2 linked regions of the Homo sapiens genome follow. The protein of the gene in region 1 purifies or fractionates together with the protein of each later gene. This does not show direct contact. Each region holds a gene or a part of one and is shown on either strand. Other genes may lie near its edges. The genes, in order: DHDDS and FOXP4.

What was found.
Region 2: the proteins of DHDDS (region 1) and FOXP4 purify together in Homo sapiens (affinity purification with mass spectrometry; 3 studies listed by BioGRID and IntAct, with this or other methods). This does not show direct contact.

Annotation. Positions count from the first base shown.
Region 1 is NC_000001.11:26,442,121-26,449,639, forward strand, and holds part of DHDDS (dehydrodolichyl diphosphate synthase complex subunit DHDDS), read left to right. Parts: intron 1-587; exon of another isoform or gene 588-610; coding exon 611-753; intron 754-4,195; coding exon 4,196-4,312; intron 4,313-5,438; coding exon 5,439-5,540; intron 5,541-7,519. UniProt on the Homo sapiens protein: With NUS1, forms the dehydrodolichyl diphosphate synthase (DDS) complex, an essential component of the dolichol monophosphate (Dol-P) biosynthetic machinery.
Region 2 is NC_000006.12:41,598,381-41,602,884, forward strand, and holds the end of FOXP4 (forkhead box protein P4), read left to right. Parts: intron 1-342; exon of another isoform or gene 343-408; coding exon 409-556; 3' UTR 557-4,004; downstream 4,005-4,504. UniProt on the Homo sapiens protein: Transcriptional repressor that represses lung-specific expression.

The sequences.
Region 1 (7,519 bases):
TCATTTGTAAAGTAGGCATGAAAACAGTAGTGTCATTTTAAAGTGGTTGTTCAAAGAATCAAATGAAATTATGTGAAAACCCTTTGCAGGCTATTAAATGCTACACAGCTGTCCAGTTGTTGCTTTTTTTCTTTTAACTCAGCCTCTCAACCTACCAGAATAATGAAGTTATGCTGTGAGTAATAACACCTTGTGTTTTTATATTGTTCGTTAGCCACCTTGTAAGGGATGGATTGTGATCCCATATTACAGGTAAGGAGACTTCAACCTAGAGAAATTAAATGATTTGATTCCAGTCACATAAGTGCATGCTGGAGTCAGGGACTAGAGCCTATGTCTTTACACTCTCAGTGCAGAGTTCTTTCTTGTAGTGCACAATGCCATCAGCATTCACTAAGATCACATTTTTCAGTTTCTTCAATGGTGGTTTTCTGCTTATTTGATGCATTAATTCTGACATAAACACTGATGTTATCCTAGCTTCACCCAGCTTTGGGGAGGAGAAAAGTCTGTCTCCTATCTCCAACTCTGAGTCAGGACCAAAAAGTATCTCTTATTTCCCCTTCCCACTCTTCCTTGTATCCTAGCTCCTTGCCTTCTCCCCTCTCAGACTCTGCGGTGGTGTTTGAACCTGGGCATCCTAGAGGTGACAGTCTACGCATTCAGCATTGAGAACTTCAAACGCTCCAAGAGTGAGGTAGACGGGCTTATGGATCTGGCCCGGCAGAAGTTCAGCCGCTTGATGGAAGAAAAGTAAGATGCTATCAGAGGGGAGAGCATGTTCTTCCACCACCCCCAGCCTTATCCTAACCCTTGAAATTCTGTTATCTGAGGCTTACTTAAGGGACTTGCAACTCTTTTTAATGTTAGTTAGATATCTTGGGTGGCAAATATCAGAAATACAAGATAGTCTTTCATTCTTTATTTCTAACTTTTTAATAAAAAAGGGGGCATTTATTTGAGGATATTGAGGGGTGTCACATGATTTAAGAACAAGTACAGCCAGCCTCAAGCAAAACTGAAACCAGGAATTAAACCCACTAGGTAGAACCTCTGTATTCATTTATTTCCACCTCTCTCTGCAGACCAGTTTTCTCTTGCTTCAAAAGAGCAGCCTGGAATCAATAAAATCCCTTAATTGGGATCCCTAAATTCTATCAGATTTCTACCCCAGAGCCAATAAACTATGGCCAAGGAAGTGGAGTTAAAGAAAACATTGAGGAAGTCATTTTCTGCTGCACAGTGAACCCTAAAAAGTTACTGTACTCCCCCTGCATAGTCTTTTGGGAGGGATAGGATGATGCATAAGAGACATTTATGGGGAAGCATCAGTACCATTCTTAGCTGTCAGTAAGTTTAGGCTTAACTTAGGGAATAAAGCCAGAGAGGGGCAAAGACAAATTTCAGTGGAGACTGCTTGCTTCAAAGTATGGAGCCCTTACCAGCCAGAATTGCCCGAAAGTCTTAGTTACAACTGTTGTGTGCCCAGCTCCTACCTGTACCAGGAAGATGAGAGAACAGTGAGCCTAGAACTCCAGTGAAGATGAGCCTAGAACAATGGGTGGTAGGGAGGGTAGCCAGGCTTCCTTCTGTCTATATTAGGATGGTGAGACTCTGGGCTACAGACATTGCTCCCCGGTCCCCAGCAGAGCCTGTGTGGCTCAGAGTTTACACCTAAGGAGCCGGGGATGGAGGCATGGGGGGCATATCCCACTAATCTTACCTTTTTAAAGTGTTTACTATATGCCAGGCTTTGAGCCTAAAATATATTCTTACTCATCCTGTAATCACATTATACCATGACAAAGATATTATTAGCCAATTTTTAGAGAGAAGGAAAGTAGTTAACCAAAGAAGTTAAGGCATATATCCTGGGTCACACAGCTATCAGACAGGCAGAGCCAAGGTGCACACCTGGATCTTTTTGACTCCAGAGCTGAGCTATCATCTACTACACTGTGCTCTGAGAGACAGACCATATTACAATTCCTGCAAGATCAAAACGCATGGCAGAAGAGATGCTAATGAGATTGCGCTGATCAGTTAGTAGTAGAGAAAATGGTCTTCGTTTATCATGAAGTCCTGGCAAAAGCAAGAAGAAACTCAGAGGTGCTTTTCCATTAATGTGCCACAGAACCCCAAGGTCTGAGGAGGTGTAGAAAGAACCTAGTGGGAATGGGGTAGGGGGTGCTGAGTTGCATTTACCTATTTTATGTGTTGGGCTTCTGTGTAGAATTTGATTTGAAGAAAGGGTTCTTTGGCTAAAAGAAGGTGGGAAAACCACTGGCCTGATTCTGTTTCATCAGTTGGGAAACTAAACCCTAGTAAAGAGAAGAGGTTGAGCAAGGTGGCTCATGCCTGTAATCTCAGCACTTTGGGAAGCCAAGGAGGGTACATTGCTTGAGTCCAGGAATTTGCTTGATTCCAGCCTAGGCAACATGGCAAAACCCCATCTCTACAAAAAAATACAAAAAAATTAACTGGGGATGGTGGCACATGCCTATAATCCCAGCTATGTGGGAGGCTGAAGTGGGGGGATCACTGTGATGAGCCTGGGGAGTCTGAGGCTGCAATGAGCTGTGATCGATCCACTATGCTCCATCCTGTGCAACAGATCGAGACCCTGTCTCAGAAAAAATAATTAAAAATAAGTAAATTAAAATTTTAAAAAACAGAAGACAAGAGCTTACACATGGTCACACATCAAACTAGTGGCAGAACTATACCACAAGCTAGCAGGAGGAGCTGAATCAAGGTCTTCTAGTATACTGCCTTCAATTAATCTCCCATTTTCCAAATGTGAAGCATTCGGTTTCTTCATAGCATTTCCAGATGAGAGAAGCTGGCTGAATTCATTCTCACTGTATGCAGAGTTTGGGAGTTATTGTATGGAAGCAATATAATGTCATAATTAAGAAGACAAGCTCTGGAGGCTGACTCCCTACGTGCAAATCCTGGTTCTCCATCAGCTGTCCAAACAAATTACCTAACGTCCCTGTGCCTCAGTTTCCTCATCTGTAAAAGGGGAATAATAAGGGTATATAACTCAGAGGTTGGTGTAAGGATGGAATGTGTTGGTACATGTAAAGCACTTAGACCAATATCTGGCATTTAGTAAACATAGAATGTTAGCTGTCACCATTATCATAATATTTCACTAGAACATAACAAAAGTACCCCATAATACAGCTCCTTCCCTTGAGGAGTTTACTCACTTCTCAAATGGGACAAACTTCACAGATACATAAAATGCAACTGCCCAAAAAGGACACATGAGGTCGTGTAATGTATAGTAAAGAGTTTGGGTTCTTGCTGGACATGGTGGCTCACACCTGTAATCCTAGCACTTTGGGAGGCTCAGGCAGGAGGATCACTTGAGGCCAGGAGTTTGAGACCACCTTGGGCAACATAGTGAGACCTCATCTTTACAAAAAATACAAAAATTAGCCAGGCATGGTGGTGCATGCCTTTAGTCCCAGCTACTTGGGAGGCTGAGGCAGGAGGATCGCTTGAGCCCAGGATTTGGAAGTTAACACTGAACCATGAGTATACCACTGCACTCCAGCCTGGGTGAGAGTAAGACCCTGTCTCCAAAAAAGGGGAAAAAAAAATGTAGTTTGGGGCTGAGCGCAGTGGCTCATGCCTGTAATCTCAGCACTTGGGAGGCCGAGACAGGCAGATCACTTGAGGTCAAGGGTTCGAGACCAGCCTGGCCAACATGGTGAAACCTCATCTCTACTAAAAATATAAAAATTAGCCAGGCCTGGTGGTGGGCACCTGTAATCCCAGCTACTTGGGAGGCTGCGGTGGGAGGATCGCTTAAACCCGGGATGCGGAGGTTGCAGTGAGCTGAGATTGCGCCACTGCACTCCAGCCTGGGTGACAGAGCAAGCCTCCATCTCAAGAAAAAGAATTTGGGTTCTCAAATCAGACAAACTGGGTTTCAATCCTGACAAAGCACTTGATGGCTATATGACCCTGGGCAGTCCCTATCTGACTGTCCTGTCTGAGCCTTGGCACTGAAGTAAGTTTCTTTCAGAGTTGTTGAAGGGATGCAATGAAATAATGCATGTAGAACAGGGTCTGACACACAGGAAAGCACTCAAAAAACTGGTGGTCAGTTATTACCTGAGCACCTTGCTCTCTCCAGCTCAGCAGGGGCCCTATCCCAATGCTGCCTCTTTTCCCTGATCAGGGAGAAACTGCAGAAGCATGGGGTGTGTATCCGGGTCCTGGGCGATCTGCACTTGTTGCCCTTGGATCTCCAGGAGCTGATTGCACAAGCTGTACAGGCCACGAAGAACTACAACAAGTAAGTTCTCAGATTTCCCTATAGGGAGCTGTTTCAATCTTTGATTCCCTGCTGGCTTTAGGGAGACGTCCTGGGCTTTCCTTGGTCTGGATTGGTGCAAGGGGCAATGAGAGAGTAGGTTGAGCAGCTTAGAGACTTTCTCCGTCTGCAGGGCACACCAGACATGATTCTGCAATAACATGTTATATGTGTGTATACTGACACATACACATAGTTTCTCTTTCCTCCTTTCTCTGCCCAGCCCCCACCAAATAAGTGTGTGTGTGTGTGTGTGTGGGTGTGTTTTTACTTGACAGGGAATGGGATCGGAATACAGCAGTTCTTATCCCTGACTTTGAAGACAGATCCTTCAAGAAATTCTTGTTCTGTTCCACTCCTTTAACCTATGGATAGGATGACCTTGGGAGGTCATACAGATGTACAGGGGAATAGAGTTCAATAATCCAAACTCTGTGATGTGTAGCTTTGAAATATAACGTGTATTTTGGCAGTGGACTTGTTTTACATCAAATCTCCTTCCTATTTTCCTTTGTTTGTGCCAATATCACAGTAGAGTCTTCCTCTGAAAGCCGGTGTACAGTAGAAGGGGAGAGGGTTAGGACGGCAATAGGAGCTATTTGGTGGCTGGGCACAGTGGCTCACGCCTGTCATCCTAGGCAGGTGGATCACCTGAAGTCAGGAGTTCAAGACTAGCCTGGCCAACATGGTGAAACCCCATCTCTACTAAAAATACAAAAATTAGCCAGGTGTGGTGGTGTGCACCTGTAATCCCAGCTACTCGGGAGGCTGAGGCAGAAGAATCGCTTGAACCCAGGAGGCAGAGGTTGCAGTGAGTCGAGATCACGCCATTGCACTTCAGCCTGGGCGACAAGAGCAAAACTCTGTCTCAAAAAAAAAAGGAGCCATTTAGTATTTGTCTTATTATAAAACTAGTTACATGTTTATTCCAAGAAAACTTGGAAACCACAAAAAACTCATAATTTCACCTTTCAGAGGTATCCACAATTAACATTTGATGTGTATTTGTTTTTCTAGGGAAAGGCTGGAAGGGCTTCTCTGTAATCAGTGACTTCAATCATCAGTCCCTGTCCCCCTTTGGTAAATTATTCTCTTCTTCCCTCCTCAGGTGTTTCCTGAATGTCTGTTTTGCATACACATCCCGTCATGAGATCAGCAATGCTGTGAGAGAGATGGCCTGGGGGGTGGAGCAAGGCCTGTTGGATCCCAGGTATCCCGAGTTGTTTTGCATGGTAATTGTTAAGGAAAACAGGCCTGGGCCAGCATGGCAGCTCACGCCTGTAATCCTAGCACATTAGGAGGCCGAGGTGGGCAGTCCACTTGAGGCAGGCCAGGAGTTCAAGACCAGCCTGGCCAACATGGCAAAACTCCCTCTTTTCAACAACAACAACAAAAAAGCAGGCCTGTACCAAACCATAAAGCCCCTCTGTGCCATGTACTTGGCCAGAGGTCTAATTAGGGGAGCATGTGGAAAGATTTAAGGGGATCTCCCAAATTTAGAGATTAGGATTGGCTTATTACAACCTGCTTCAGAACTAGAGTTCACCACACACCAAGAAACCCCAGAGAAAGAGCAAAGCAGATGACAAAGCCATGTTATTATTCCTTTACAAATTATACCCTCCTGGCCCTTTGGTAGTGTTTTTCCAAGAATGACTTTTCATGAATGCAGTTTGTTGGGGCTAGAGTTCTTTAGGTCTCTCATGTTCTAGTTCCACACAAGATTCAGGTGTTTTTCTTTTCTTTTTTTTTTTTTTTTTTGGTGAGGCAAAGTCTCACTCTGTTGCCCAGGCTGGAGTTGCAACCTCCACCTCCCAGGTTCAAGCAATTCTTCCGCCTCAGCCTCCCAAGCAGCTGGGACTACAGGTGCATGCCACCATGCCCAGCTAATTTTTGTATTTTCAGTCGAGACAGGTTTCACCATATTGGCCAGGCTAGTCTCGAACTCCTGACGTCGTGATCTGCCTGCCTCAGCCTCCCAAAGTGCTGGGATTACAGGCGTGAGTCACCATGCCCAGCCGATTCAGGGATTTTTCAAAAAGAAAATTATTAATTATTGTCAACATAGTGGAATCCTAATTATTAAAGGTGGAGAGACTTTTGAAGCCATTTAAATATTTGGTCCCTCTCATGTTATTATTTATGTAACTTTTAATATATTTGTAAACTAACAGCAATAGTAAAATAATAGTAGCAAAAAATAACCCAGGAGATGTGTTGTGTTCTGTATTTCATTAAGTCATTAACCTTATGTGTGAGAGATTCAAGGCTGTTGTCCATTGTGTAGATGAGAAAACTGAGTTCAGCATTGAAGTGACTTGCCCAGGGTCACTCTACTAGTAAGTGCCAGAGCTGGGACTCATATCTAAAGCTGTTTGATTTTAGGGTTCTTATCCTTTACCTCTATTATGTGGGATCTTGGGAAGCAGGAATTTTTCTGGTTCCCTTCCCGATTCGATTGACCTAGGAAACTAGATTAAAAATCAAAAAGTTACTTGGTGAGAATAGAATTAGATAAAAAGGAGAGGAGACAGTTTTTGAGGCTATTTTATGAATGCCTCTCCTTCCTAACAGCTGGGTGACATTTCTCTGTCACATAGTTCATTCATTCAACAAATATTTTATTTTTATTTATTTATTTTTATTTTTTATTTTATTTATTTTTTTGAGATGGAGTCTCGCTCTGTCTCCAGGCTGGAGTGCAATGGCGAGATCTTGGCTCACTGCAACCTCCGCTTCCCAGGTTCCAGCAATTCTTCCACCTCAGCTTCCCAAGTAGCTGGGATTACAGGCGCCCACCACCGTGCCCAGCTAATTTTTTGTATTTTTTAGTAGAGACGGGGTTTCACCATGTTGGCGAGGCTGGTCTTGAACTCCCAACCTCAAGTGATCTGTCTGCCTCAGCCTCCCAAAGTGCTGAGATTCCAGGCATGAGCCATCACTCCTGGCCCATTTTTATTTTTATTTTGAGACAGGGACTCACTCTATCGCCCAGGCTGGCGTGCAGTGGTGTGATCTCGGCCCACTGTAGTCTGTGCCTCCCGGGCCCAAGCAGTCCTCCCACTTCAGCCTTCCAAGTAGCTGGGACTACAGGTGTGTGCCACCATGCTCAGCTAATTCTTTTTTTGGAGACAGAGTCTCACTCTTGCCCAGGCTGGAATGCAATGGTACAATCTCGGCTCACTGCAA
Region 2 (4,504 bases), on another chromosome or scaffold:
TAATTATTTTGTATTTAGTAGAGAATGGGGTTTCACCGTGCTGGCCAGGCTGGTCTCGACCTCCTGATTTCAGGTGATCCACTGGCCTCGCCCTCCCAAAATGCTGGGATTACATGTGTGAGCCACCTCGCCTGGCCTCTCTTCTATCTTTCTTCTCCTTCCTCCGTTCGCTCATCTCCCCTCTGCTCCCCTCTTCTCTCCTCCCCAACCCAGAGCAGTCTCTGCCCCAGGACCAGCTTTTCTTTGAAGAGAGCCCTAGGGGAGATCAGCCCTCAGGTCTGATGGGATCCTGGGGAGGGGGCTGTGGGCACCCCACTGTGCCCCAGAGTTCTGGGTGAGTTTGGGGGGCAGGGGGCAGAGGGCATCAGAGGACAGCCGCCTGGTGCCCATGCCATACTTTTGCCTCAGCCACCAGGTGCAGGTGAAGGAGGAGCCAGCAGAGGCAGAGGAAGACAGGCAGCCCGGGCCTCCCCTGGGCGCCCCTAACCCCAGCGCCTCGGGGCCTCCGGAAGACAGGGACCTGGAGGAGGAGCTGCCGGGAGAAGAACTGTCCTAAGGGCCTGTAGTGACCGGCAGGGCTGGGGTGAGACCCCTCCCTTCCAGAATCCAGGCCCCATCTCCCCCAACTCCACAGCCCCTCCCGAGCCTCAAGGCAAGTCCAGGACTCAGACCGGGGAGGCCCGGGCCAGCAGCTCCCAGTGTGACCTGACAAAAACACGTAGGGGCAGGGACGGTCCCCACCCCCAGGGACACAACCCCTGGTCTTGGACCAGTAGAGGACACGGAGGGTTCAGACCCCTCCTCAGACCCTCCCCACATCTGAAACTGCCTCCCCCCAACCACCAGCAGCAGCAGGGCCCTCCTCCCCCACCAGCTCTCCCCACAGGGCCCCTCAGCATCATGGAGACCCGCAGGCGGGGCTTAGCCACCCCTCAAACCCAGGGCCCCCTGGCACCTGGCTCTGGCCGTGTTTTCTGGCCAGAGGCCCCCACTTTCCTAACTCGTGCTCCCTTCCGCCTTCTTTTCCGTACTGTGAAGAAAGAACTCTCCACCCCAGCTCCCACCCTGCCCTGGCCTGGGTGGAGGAACTGTGCCTCCATCCCCAGAAGAAACAGCCCCCTCTGCTGCTGGGGTGGGACTGTCTGTGTGCCCTGTGGGGGTCCGTGTGAGCAGGCCCACCTGGCTCCAGACCCGCCCCCAACCTGAGACAGAACCAGGCTGAGCCAGGCCTCCACCCCCACCCCCGTTTGCTGGGGGCTCCTCCAGCCGCCCCCATGGGAAGAGGCCTGGTACCGCCTCACCCACAGAGGTCTGTGCCAGGTGCGCTTCTGCAGGTGGAGCCAAGCTCTCCCTGAGGCCAGAGGCGGGGCCTGGGCCGGGAGCCCAGGGGAAGGCCAGGCTGGACCCCGGCTCCACACCCACATCCAGCCTGCAGGCCTCTCTGCAGTCCTCTCACCCTCCCTCAGCTCCCCTTCCTCTGCAGTCACCCTCAGCTCCCCTTCCTTGCCCGCCTCTCCCCCCGCCGCCCCACCAGTTAAACGGATGACCAAAGACCTTTCTTATGCCGGAAGCAAAAACCAAAACTTTTTGTTGGCTTTTTCCTTTGTCGCCTCCCCAGCACCTGCCCTCCCAGTCTCCCACCCCGGCCCCAGGCTGGAAGCCCTCCCTCCACTTAAGTTATTGTTTTAAACCAAAGTTTACAGTGTCTGTTGGTGGCCAAGACCTTCTCTCTCCACCCCTCCTCCATCCACCCTGAGGACCCTGGGGCTCAGTGGAGGCAGGGCCCTGCCCCCCTCCCTTCCGCTCCTGCCCAGCCTGGGGGAAGGAGAAAGGAGGGGAGAAAGCGGGCTCTCACCCCCTCAGGAGTGGGCACGGGAGCCCTTCTCCCTGACCCTGGGCTGCTTCCTGGGGGCTCTCCAGACCCCTCTCTAGGACCAAGTCACCCGTCGTGCTGGGAGTGTGGATTCTAGCAAAAGAGCTGGAAAAAAGTCAGACTCTCCACAGACCCCCTATGGGGGACCCCCAACTCAAGGCCAAGGACTGGGCGTATCGGATGCTCATAACACCCCTGGCCTGGCCCCTTTACTGAGAAGACTCCTTGGATATTTCCCAAGAACCCCCCACATACACCCCTCACAAGCCACCCCTCCTGAGAGGCAGGGGGCCCTCCGCCCCCTCCCCATGTATTCCCCACCTGTGTTCCGTTTGACCAGCACAGAAATATTAAACGTCCTCTATTCACCGGGCCCTGTGTGTGTCACCGAGGTGCGGGAGGGGAGGAGCATTAAAGCTGAAAGATCGCTCTGCTCGGGGAGCCTGGGCAGAGCAGCAGCAACGTGAGGGTCGCTGTGGTGGTGGTTTCTGTGAGTGGATGGAATGAGCAGCCCTGCAGGGGCGCTGGGCATGTGCCCTCACTGTGGACAGGGCCCACCCACCTCCGGTTCCCCTGTGCCTCCTGTCCCTTCCACGCTTAAACAGGGTTCTCTGTCATTTTCCTGTTTTCTTCCAGAGTCCCAATCCTTTGCCCTAGTTCTTTCACTAGTTTGAAATCCAAGTTCTTGCCAGAGTGTTGGAGCAAGGCAGCTGATTTGCTGCAGGGATGGAGAGGACCACCGCCGCAGGGTTCTTTTACCTGTGCCACCAGCTCTGGAGACATCCACACCCATTCCCAGGTGTCCTTCCAGGCCCATTGTCCACGTCTTCAAGGGGGCTGCCTGGATAGGCGTGTGTGTGTGTAGTGCCCAGGTGTGGTGGTGGCATCCTGAAGCAGTAGGACCATTAGTGTGCGTGCACACCCACGTGGCACACTGTGTGGTGACCATGGTCATCATAGTGGGCTCACGGCGGAAACGGGATCATTCAACCTATACAAAGGGGACCCTGGATAGGCTGCAAGGAAAGAGGCCAAGGGCCAAGCTGCTAAGCCAAAGATGGCCCCTGACACCTCCCCCAGCCCCAGCACACCAGCCTGCACCTCTTATCCCGTGTTAAGTCCTGGTTCCCCACCTGCTGCCCCTCCTCAACACAGAGCCCCTCCCGCCGCCTCAGACCCCTGTGCACATCCCCAGGGCCTCAGCCGTCTCATTGGTCTTTATTTTTTATTTTTTTTAAGATGGAGTTTCGCTCTTATTGCCCAGACTGGAGTGCAGTGATGCTATCTCGGCTCACTGCAACCTTTGCCTCCCAGGTTCAAGTGATTCTCCTGCCTCAGCCTCCCAAGTAGCTGGGATTACAGGCGTGCACCACCACGCCGGGCTAAATTTTTTTGTATTTTTAGTAGAGACGGGGTTTCTCTATGTTGGTCAGGCTGATCTCGAACTCCCGACCTCAGGTGATCCGCCAGCCTCAGCCTCCCAAAGTGCTGGGATTACAGGCGTGAGCCACTGCACCCGGCTCTCACTGGTCTTACGCCACCTTCTGGACACTCCCTCCTTGAGGGCAGAAAGGAGTCCCAGGCCTGTCCCTAGGGACAAGGCCCAGGGAAGAGTGTATTTGGGGAGCAGGGGAGGGGAGGGTGTTGAGAAAGCTGAACTGGAGTCAATCACCCTTCCCACAAATCACCAAACTGCTGGAACTCTCCAGCCAAATGCTGGGAGAAGGACCTGGAGGGTGAGTCTTTGCTGACCTCTCTCTACTCTCAGGCATGTCTTTTGTCCTTTTCGTCCATCTATTTCTGTCTGTCGCTCACTCGCCCCGCTTTCTCTGTCTCACCTTCATCCACTCTGCAGGCCTGCTCCACCACAGCCCTAATCCTCTGGACGCTTGTGTAGGGCCTGGGGTGAATTCCCTGTCCCCCATGGTACCTCGAGAGGGGCTGGGGAGCTCAGCTTGGTCTCAGAGTCTCCCCACCAGATACTGTTTAAAAAAGTAGCACTGATGTGTTTTGTAATCTGCCCCTCCCAGCCCTCCGTGGAGGCTGCCAGGGCCTTGTACGGTAAACCTAGCTGCATGTAATCTGTGGACAATGGCATTCTCTACAATGCAATAAAAACAATTACCCATGATTTTGCTGCGGCCGCTTCCCCTTTCCCCTTCTTCCCCTCCCAGCTGGGACCTACCAGAATGCCCCAGAGAATCCTTAGGTGTTGGCTGCCAGTCTCCCAGCCCCCTTACTCTGCCCCCTTGAAGAAGTAGTCAGTTCTGTGGACCAGCCCCGGGGGCATTCTTCCTATGCCAGACTCTGGAGGGACAAGACTGCACCTAGCTTTATTCTCAGGACCGTCCTTCCCGCGGTCTAACTTCAGTTTCTCCTGCTTCAACTAGAGTCCTCTTTTTATTCCTCTCACAGGGATATAGTGAATGGTCAGTGCATTTGCAGGTGGGGTGATGATCTATTTTGGACACTGGTACAGGAGAGGGTCTTGCAATATAAGAAACAAGAGCTGTTATGAACCACCACCTTCTGGGTGCATTGGGCTTATAGACTCAGTAATTTATTTTCTTCCTGATCTGACATCCTACATGGGGCAGCCCTCCCACAATTATTACCTTATTCGAAGTATGA